Linked DNA regions of Homo sapiens. The protein of the gene in region 2 purifies or fractionates together with the protein of the main gene of each other region. This does not show direct contact. Each region holds a gene or a part of one and is shown on either strand. Other genes may lie near its edges.

The links.
Region 1: the proteins of PPM1G (region 2) and ZNF561 purify together in Homo sapiens (co-immunoprecipitation; one large-scale study listed by IntAct). This does not show direct contact.
Region 3: the proteins of PPM1G (region 2) and HMG20A purify together in Homo sapiens (affinity purification with mass spectrometry, with the first as the bait; one large-scale study listed by BioGRID). This does not show direct contact.

Annotation. Positions count from the first base shown.
Region 1 is NC_000019.10:9,619,072-9,622,826, reverse strand, and holds the start of ZNF561 (zinc finger protein 561), read left to right. Parts: upstream 1-1,594; 5' UTR 1,595-1,665; exon of another isoform or gene 1,666-1,911; intron 1,912-3,244; 5' UTR 3,245-3,339; coding exon of another isoform or gene 3,340-3,370; coding exon 3,371-3,395; intron 3,396-3,755. UniProt on the Homo sapiens protein: May be involved in transcriptional regulation.
Region 2 is NC_000002.12:27,383,143-27,385,743, forward strand, and holds part of PPM1G (protein phosphatase 1G), read right to left. Parts: intron 1,947-2,601; coding exon 1,531-1,946; intron 951-1,530; coding exon 810-950; intron 459-809; coding exon 224-458; intron 1-223.
Region 3 is NC_000015.10:77,476,328-77,479,982, forward strand, and holds part of HMG20A (high mobility group protein 20A), read left to right. Parts: intron 1-1,227; coding exon 1,228-1,303; intron 1,304-1,967; coding exon 1,968-2,183; intron 2,184-2,851; coding exon 2,852-2,988; 3' UTR 2,989-2,994; exon of another isoform or gene 2,995-3,655. UniProt on the Homo sapiens protein: Plays a role in neuronal differentiation as chromatin-associated protein. Acts as inhibitor of HMG20B. Overcomes the repressive effects of the neuronal silencer REST and induces the activation of neuronal-specific genes.

The DNA.
Region 1 (3,755 bases), on a different chromosome or scaffold from region 2:
TCAATGTACTTTATATTCTTAGCTCCCACAGTTTAGTCTACATATTTGCCCTGGCATGCTTGTACTGGTCCAGGCAAGCATTAGGGCATAGCCTGTTCTTTTTCCTTATTTGAAGATGTTTTGACCCTTCTCAGCATTCCACAAGTTACTTCCTCCTTCCTTTGTTCTCCTCTACCCTTGCCTCTTTTAAAAAGTTATAAGTTGCTAGCCAGAACGTGAGGTCCCATTCCAGCCAGTGGAAACTGGACACAGCAGTAGGTTGGAAGCATCAGGTTATAAATGACCCTATCTCCTTTGTTTGGTGTACTCTCGTGGCAAAACTGCTGGTGAGTATACCGTTTCTGCAGGAAGTAAAAATGGCCTTGCTGAGTAAATTAAATTTATGTTCAAGTGCTAATTTCTTTATGGCACCAGGGAACAAGCATTTTGAACATGTATATTTATATATTTTTTATATATTTATATATTTATATGTATTTATACATATATGTTTATATATATATATATAGAGAGAGAGAGAGAGAGAGAGACAGGGTCTTGCTACTTTGCCCAGGCTGGTCTCAAACTCTTGGACTTGTAGAAAATGAAATAAATACAGGTTCCTCTTCAAAGGGACTTTCCTCCCAGTCTGATTGAAATAAATAGTAATCCCTCTTAGAAGCCAAATTTTCTCAAAGACCTGTGGTAATATTGTTAAATTCTGCCAGCCGTAATAAAGAAATCAATAGACTCTGTTTTTAGCTCCCACATTTTAGCCTAGATATTTGCCCTGGCATGCCTGAACTGGTCCAAGCAACTATTAGGTCATGGCCTATTCCTTTCCCTATTTAGAAGTGTTTTTGCCTCTCTCAACAGTCCACAAGTTACTTCCTCTCTTCCTTTGTTCTCCTCTGCCATTGCCTCTTTTGGGAAGTTCTAAGTTGCTAGCCAATCCAGTGAAGTACAGGAAGGTGAGGTCCCGTTCCAGCCAATGGAAGCTGGACACAGCAGAAGGATGGACACTTCAAGTTTAAAAAAACCCTGTCTCCTTTGTTAATGTGTGCTCTGGTGGCAAGACTGCCAGCCAGTGGCACCCATTCTGCAGAAAGTAAAACTAGCCTTGCTGAGATCCTTTGTCTCAGTGTTGATTTTGTGACACCAAGCGAGCACCCATTCCCAGCAGACTCAAGCTATTTACCTACCTTAGCCTCCCAAAGTGCAGGAATTACAGGCGTGAGCCACTGCGCTCGCCCGATAAAAGCTTTGGAGGAGCATCCCCCGGGGATGCGTCCCATCCCTCATCCCCGCCCTTCCAGCCCGACCGGCCACCTGAACCACCGGCTAGGCCGGGTCCCTCCTCTAAATCACCCCCCGAGTACGAGCCCCTCCCCTCGCCCACAGTTCCGTCTGGAGGCCCGGTTCTAACCTCACCTTTTTCTCTGGACCTAGTTCTGCATCCCCCTCCCTGAGCCAACCCCAGGCCCTTTCTGCACCCACCCGAGAGGAAACTAGAATTTCTGTGTTCTACCCGGTCCTACGTGGCTGAAACTGGAGCCCACGAGCCTCGCCCGGCCAGAGTGTTGAAGCGGAAGTGACGTCAGCGCACCACCGCCATCTTTTCCGGCGCTGGCTCCTCTCCGTCAGTGCGGTTTCGCCTTTATGGTGGTGGAGTCTGCCCAGGCTGTGGTGAGTTCCACCTCCTTGGCGGTCCCGGGGATAGCAGGGGGCGGCAAAGGAATGATTGCGCGCTGTCGCCTAGGAGCCTCTCAGATCCGCTTCACTTCACTCGCTTCTCCAGGGACTATCAGTCCTCCCTGTGCGTCCAGTTCGGAGAGGCTGCGCGCTCTCTCGGCTCACTGCAACCTCTGCAACCTCTGCCTCCAGGGTCAAGCAGTTCTCCTGCCTCAGCCTTCCGAGTACCTGGGATTACAGGCAAGTGCCACCACGCCCGGCTACTTTTTCTATCTTTAGTAGAGATGGTTTTGCCATGTTGGCCAGGCTGGTCTTGAACTCCTGACCTTAGGTGATCTGTCTGCCTCGGTCCCCCAAAGTGCTGGGATTATAGGTGTGAGCCACTGCACCCGGCCGACTTTTGAAAATTTTAGATTTTGTTCTTAAGTCATCTTAGGTACGTAATGAAGTTATCAATAACACACGTGGCTGGTGACTACTGAATTGTTCTGTGCAGGTCTGCACTGTCTTCTGGTCATATGGCGGGGGGGTAACACCATATACAGGAGATCAGGCTCTAGGGACAAGTATCAGACCGACTACTAGGGTTGTTTGAGTGTAGGTTTTTTTCAGTATTAAATAGAAGTAATGGGCCAGGCATCGTGGCTTATGCTTATTATCCCAGCACTTTGGGAGGCCAAGTCAGGAGGATTGTTTGAGCCCAGGAGTTTGAGACTAGCCTAGGCAATCTGGTGAAAACTTGTCTCTACTAAAACTACAAAAAATTAGCCGGACCCAGTGGTGTGCACCTGTAGTCCCAGCTAGTTGGGGGGCTGAAGTGGGAGAATCACTTAAGGCCAGGAGTTCAAGACCAGCCTGGCCAATATGGCGAAACTGCGTCTCTACTAAAAATGCAAAAATTAGCCAGGCATGGTAGTGCATACCTGAAATCCCAGCTACTCGGGAGGCTGAGGCCTGATAATCGCTTGCACCTGGGAGGCAGAGGTTGCAATGAGTTGAGATCATGCCACTGCATTCCAGCCTGGGCAACAGAGTGAGACTCTGTCTCAAAATAATAATAATAATAATGAGTGATGATACGCACCTATGGTCCCAGCTATTCAGGAGGCTGAAGTGGGAGGATCACTTGAGCCCGGGAAGTCTAGGCTACAGAGAGTTGTGTTAGTGCCATTGGATTTCAACCTGGGCAACAGAGTGAGACCCTGTCTCGATAGATAGATAGATAGATAGATAGGATAGATATAGATAGATAGATATAGATAGATATATAGATAGATAGATATAGATAGATAAATATAGATAGATATAGATAGATAGAGGTAATGATAGCTACTGGGAAGGATGGCTATGATAATTAACTGAGCATGTATATATAAAGCTACTAGAGCTACTTCTGACATATCAGTCCTCAGTAAATGTCAGTTACTGTTATTAATACTTTTGTTACTGAGTGACGGTACTGAGTGGGCAATTTTTGGTGGCCTTCACATCTGTCACCTGCAGAGACAAAGCTCAGGCATAATGTTTGATGACTGATGTTTCATGCTTGTTGTTTGATGATTGATATGAACAGGACCGCAAATAACCCTGTACAAAGAGGAATGGAGATTGCCTCTATCCACCTAGATTCATAAGCTGGCCTGAGGTGATCTTGGCATCAAGGAAGGGATGCACATCATCACACCATCAGCTTCAGAGAATGGCAGCCATTTATTTGTCCCGTGGTAAGTCTTTGTTGATGCTCTTTTTCAGAGATTCTGCTTTAGGTCACCCTCCACAACACAAGCGTCCAGTGAGCTGAGCCTGAGCAGGCATGCAGCTGGTTCTTTTAGGAGGAATTGAAGTGAACCACAGAACAGAATGCTGTTTTATTATTTATTTATTTATTTATTTATTTTTGAGACAGAATCTTGTTCCGTCACCCAGGCTGGAGTGCAGTGGTGCAATCTTAGCTCACTGCAACCTTCACCTCCCAGGTTCAAGTGATTCTCTTGCCTCAGCCTCCCAAGTATCTGGGACCACAAGCACATACTGCCAGACCTGGCTAATTTTTGTTTGTTTGTTTGTTTTTGTTTTTGAGACAG
Region 2 (2,601 bases):
GTCTTTTTCATCATTCAAATGTTACATAAGATGGGTATAATGATACCTATGTATAATGATACCTCTACCCATCTTAGTTATTTCACAGAAATATAAGAACAGAGGTAGTAGATATTAAAGTGCTTTGAAAGGCACAAGCACTAGGAAGATTAAAGTTTGCTACTAGGTAGTCTGGGACAGAGAGAAAGACCCTAGAAGTCTTTCCCAGTTTCTTGGCCCTTACCAATGGCTCTGGAGAGGTTGAGGCCCCCGTTGACTCGCCCATCCATGGTGACCTTGCCACCAGCATTCTTGATGCGTGCTAGTTCTACTTCATCCTCTGGTTTGTGATCATAGGACATGTCTAAAGCTTTGCCAGCCTCAGATACCACACAGCGAGAGTCTCCTGCGTTGGCTACAATCAACTGCTTCCCTCGTATCAGGGCCACCACCGCTGTTGTACCACTGTCAGAGCCAGGCTTAAGAGGAAGAAAAGGAGCATCATGGGGGCTTCTGAACATGCGTTCCTCACTGATGTGCTCCTGATCGTTCACCTATGCTTGCTTTCACTGGGACCCCCAAAAGAGCTTTAACAAACAGGAGAAGCACACATTTCATCTTTCTAGAGACAGCAGCACACTCCCTCTCCCTTGTTTTTAGATAATTCAACCCCAAAGGCTTACCATCTCATTCCCCTTGCAGAATAAATCCCCATGACTATTACTTCCATCCTAAAGTATCAGGGGGATCCCCTGTCTCAAAATCAAAATTAGGGGATTCACACCTGCCTTGTGGCTTTTCAAGACTCATTGCTCCCCTTCCCCACACACCTCCTCTTTGCCTTCCATCCCTGGCACCATCATCTCTTCTTCTTCTTCTTCATCGTCCTCTTCAGCCTCCTCGGTGTCATCCTCATCTTCCTCATTCTCTGCCTCCTCACTGCTGTAGCCATCCTCTTCCTCGCTGCATTCCTGCCAGGGGGAGGATCCCAGACTGCTGAGACTGGGATGATCCCCTCCCTCCCCACAGCTCATACTCAGAATCAAGAGGTCCTGACTGAACACAGGTCCTCAAAACACTGAAAGATACAAGTATATGGTCATGAAAATTGGGGGGATGGAAAGGGCTAGCATGAGTACAACTGACATCCTGAACTGGGCTTAGCAGTCACTAGCAAAAAGCCCAGGACAAGGCAAGGGCTGCCAGCCAAAAATATCTTTCAGGCACTGTGGCCAGAAAATAAATTTTCCAGAGAAGAAAACAGTCAACTAGCCAAGGTAACAACTATCTCCTTGTTCTCTCTCTAGGAGACAGACTCTGAAAAGCCAGAACTAGATCTGCTTGTTATAGTACCAACAAAGGAAGAGGTAAAAAGGCAAATGGTACCTGTGATGATGGAGCTCAATGAATTCAAGACTAAAGCTTAGAATACAGTGGGTCTTGGGGGATGATGTCAAAATAGGAGAAGGAAAGAGAGTTGAAAACTACAGACGGCAACCAAACAGGACCTCTCTGCAACTTCAGCATCTGCCTGCCCTCACAGGCCCTTACCTCACTGTCTTCCTCTTCTTCCTCCGCCTCATCTGACTCATCCTCACTGTCCTCAAAGAACTTGGACTTAGCAACTCGAGGCAGCTTGTCAGAGGCTGAAGAGCAGGAAGGCCCAGCCTCACCAGTGGGAATGCCAGGCTCACCAACTTGGCCTGCCTCAGTCCCACGTTCCGAGTTGGAGGAAAAGCCTGTGTAGGCCTTGGCTGTGGGGCCATTTTCTTGTGAAGGAGTTTCCCTAGTTGAGTCCTCAGGTCCTGCCTCCCCATTGAGGCCCTGGGACCCTGGTTCCTCGCCTGTCCCACCTCCAGATTTGCTGTGGGGAGGGCCCTTGTGACAGTTCTGCCCGTAGCGTGTCAGCAGCTCTTCAATAGTCATGGTAGCCTCTTCATGCAGCAGTGCAGCCTCCTCATTGTCCACTGCAGGGAAGAGGCTAAATCAGAGCCCCCATGCCAGACTCCTCATGGGATCCGTCCCTCTCACTACCTCAACAGCCCTTGCAGCCTCTAACTTCCCCACAACCTCCCACTCCCAAGGTTCCTCTCGCTCAAGTCTCAGAAGAACATGCCCTAGCTCCTCCTCCTCCACAGACTTCTTTTGGTTTTTGTGTTTCATCCCCTTCTTAATCAAAACAACACTAGTTACTATACTTCCCCTCTGACGTCTCATTTTTTATTGTTAAGTTGTAAAAACCCTATTCTGGCTGAGGATCCAGGAAGCCCACAATGCTACTGTGAATTAGGATTTAGGCTTAATGATTGGCTATTGGGGCTAATAACTGCTCCAGTCTTGAGGGGAAAAAAAAGCACATAAATACTAGCAGGAACCAGGAAGACCCCATCACAATGACAAAAGATAATGTATATACAATGCTTACAGCTCAGATGCCACTCAACGAAGATAATTCTCTCCCTCCTTTTCATAACCACATACAATGCAGGAGAACATCATAGGTTTCTTTAACATAAGGACTCCCCAGGTCCCTAGAAAGCCATCCTATCTTAGAATTGATAAGTAATATTAAAGAATATTTCTTAAAATGCTGATTTCCCCTCAAACAAGGGATGCCACACT
Region 3 (3,655 bases), on a different chromosome or scaffold from region 2:
ACAGAAAATTAGCCAGGCATGGTGGTGGGCACCTGTAATCCCAGTGACTTGGGAGGCTGAGGCAGGAGAATTGCTTGAACCTGGGAGACAGAGGTTGCAGTGAGCTGAGATCGTGCCACTGTACTCCACCCTGGGCAACAGAGAGGGACTCCCTCTCAGAAAAAAAAAAAAAAAAAAAAAAAAAAGCTAGTGGTGACAAGAGTAGGAAAGATACATTCTGTCTAGCTTTAAACAATTGTTTATAGGAATGAAATCTAGGTATTATGTTTGCATGTTTTTCATGTTATAAAGGTCCTGGGATCTTAAGATTTCACTAGCAGTTTCTTCATTTCTCACTTCCTGCCATTTTACCACCTTTGTTATGGAAAATTTTGAACATTATGCCAACACACTTAAAATTAATATTCACAATGCTTTCAACTTCAAATTCATTTTAGAAACGACAGCCAAAGCATCTTGAGTTATTGACTTTATTCTTAAAGATCATTGTGGAATATATTTTGCAATGATCTTGTGAGGCTTTTTTATTTTTAATGGCTTATTGGTGAATTAATTTTAGGCTTTGTTATTCTTTTGTATCTCACATAATCGTTTGCTTTCTAATTTTTAGAGCCTGGTTATTTCTGATTTCTCGGTCTCATGTGTTTGTTTGTTTATTTTTCCTGTGTCTAAAGAAAATCTAAAAGACCCCAAAGATAGGCTGCCTCTCTTAAGTAAATAGAAGTACCAATGGAATATCATAATTATTGCTCATAGCAGTTACATTTCTGCTTAAAATTCTTATTGTCCACTCTGCAAATTTATATTGCATAATCTTATCTCAGGGAGCATTTTACATGCATAACCAACAAAAGTGACTGAAAAAAAACTACTCTTTCTCAATTCCCACTGCAATCACTTTCACAACTGTATACTGTTGACTATTCAAAACACAAGGCTAAGAAATGGCTTCAAATTCTCCATTAGGGAAATTTACGTAACTTTGTTTTAAGGTTTCTAATTGCACAGTAGTTGTATACCTGAGAGAAGTGAATACTTTACCTGCTTAAGCTCTGTGAAAGTTGGATTCCAATGAAAAGATGAATACATTTCCCTCACAGACTCACCTGGACTGATTCCTGCTCACCCTATTCTTTCTTTAAAGAAGACATGATCATTGTCTTCAGGCACTATTATTTAATTTATCTTCTATTAAGAATTAACTGTTTTGTTCCTCTTGATTCACAGAAAGAAACAGAGGTAAAGGAACGGTCTGTTTTTGACATCCCTATATTTACAGAGGAATTCTTGAACCATAGCAAAGGTGATTACTGAAGTTTCTTTTTGTGTTTCTCAGATTTTTGACAGGGGACTTAGTTCTCAGAAGAAATTCATTGCTCAAAAGCAATGGTAGTGTTATCCCTCCTTAGGACTACTCAAAGACCAGTGAAGGAAAGCTAGGGCATTGTTGTCAAAGCTTCTTTGGTCTCTGGATGAAAGGAAATAAATGCAAATCACAAATTCACTTGTCTTCAAACTCTTAGCCTGGAACCCCTTGCACAAATAAAAACTTACATGGGAGTCCAAAATATAAAATAAGTAAGAGCAAGTCTGATCCCATTGTGGTAAAGATGGGTACCTACAGCTGTGCTTGGCCAGTCTCCCAGGATCCCCCTGCAAAACCCCTCAGGCTTCTGATTGTACAATTTAAAAAGCAAAAACTAACAAACAAAAAAATACTGGGAATTGAAACTGTTTGTTGCAATCTTATGTATGGAATGTGACTAGCTTTAAGAATTAAAATAGCTCTGGGGAGTCAGGCGTTTCATTGCTGAAATTGCTATCTGGAATGCCATAATGAGAATAGGGAGATGAGGTGGGGTAGCTAAATTAGAGGCAGCTAAGCAGAACTTCCCTGTAAGAGTCATTGGGACTCCTCAGAGACTCCTTCTAGTGCTGCATGTGTTCTGTGGGATGTATGTCCTCAGCTCGGGAAGCAGAGCTCCGCCAGCTTCGCAAATCCAACATGGAGTTTGAGGAGAGGAATGCAGCCCTGCAAAAGCACGTGGAGAGCATGCGCACAGCAGTGGAGAAGCTGGAGGTGGATGTGATCCAGGAGCGGAGCCGCAACACAGTCTTACAGCAGCACCTGGAGACCCTGCGGCAGGTGCTGACCAGCAGCTTTGCCAGCATGCCCTTGCCTGGTAAGTCCTCCTGCCTGAGAACTGTCAGTGACAGGGGTGTGTGTGTTGTGTGGAGTGGGGTGCTGTTTATGTTAGTACTGGTGTGGAGAGATTGAAATCTCCTCCAGAGGAAAATTAATTAAACTACATTTTTTCTTCTCTGGATATAATAGAATGTCAGTATTGGCTAAAATCGTCCAATGTTTCAGGCTCTCTGGTCATTCAAATTTTTGTCCATTTATATTTTAATATCTATTTTCCCCTCTTTTAAGCTTAATTTGCTATTCAGAACACTGGAAACTGAGTAGTAAATCTTGAGAGTGTTTCTTCTTATGTATGTTTGTTTGCTTTTTAGTTGTTTTTGTTTTAACGGGAAGGAAGGGAGAATGAACACTGGTATTTCTTATATACTCTTTCATTTTGAAGATAGTCATAGCAGAAAGCTGAGCGAGTCTAACCTTCTGTTACATGCAGCTGCTCATATATACTATACAGCAATTATATAGCCCATCTGTTTATTTAGAGTATGTGGACTAATTTCATTTCTTTGAGATCTAAAAGTCTCTCCTCTAAAATTAAAAGCATGTCTGTGGAGCAGACCACATTAGAATCACTGTTTCTTTGAAATTGTGTTTTATGGTACAACTGAATAGGGAGGATTTTCTTACTTTCTTCTTATCTCACTTCAGGAAGTGGAGAGACACCTACAGTGGACACCATTGACTCATATATGAACAGACTGCACAGTATTATTTTAGCTAATCCCCAAGACAATGAAAACTTCATAGCTACAGTTCGAGAAGTTGTGAACAGACTCGATCGTTAGGGAATGGTGAGTGCTCACTGATAAATATTTATATGCCAGCACATCATCAAAAATAAGATGTCATCAGACTTTATCAATACTACTAAAACCCTGGGATTACATTGGATGAACAAGTTGGAGACTTGGTTAAGATTCCTGTTGCATGGTTGTTAAATGTAGTAAATAATATTAGAAAAGAGAATCACTGTAGTCCCAGCTACTTGGGAGGCTGAGGTGGGAGGATTGCTTGAGCCCAGCAGTTCAAGTCCAGAGAGATCCTGTCTCTAAAAATAAAAGAAAACAGACTCAAGACAGTTTTTTCTTATGCTTGCTTCAGAATGGTTTAATGGGAAAAGCATGGTTTTTGTGGCTTGACCTCATTTCTAGCTTTGTCACTTATTAGCTGTATTCTTGGGCATTAGTTTCCCAAAAGGTTTTGAAAAGTGAGTGGGAAACTTAGAAGAAATCATCCCCAAAACAGCACTCAGAACAAAATAAATATAACTTAATTTTTAATCTTCCTTTTCTCTGGAAAATACTAATGATAATTTAGAAGTAGTCAGTGAGACATTGTATGTATGTGAGCCTACATAAGTAGGAAGCTTTTATATTCACCACTCAATAACACAGTGACTGTTGTCTGTTAAATGTTGATGTGGACTCACCATACAAACAGGTAACTCCCTGG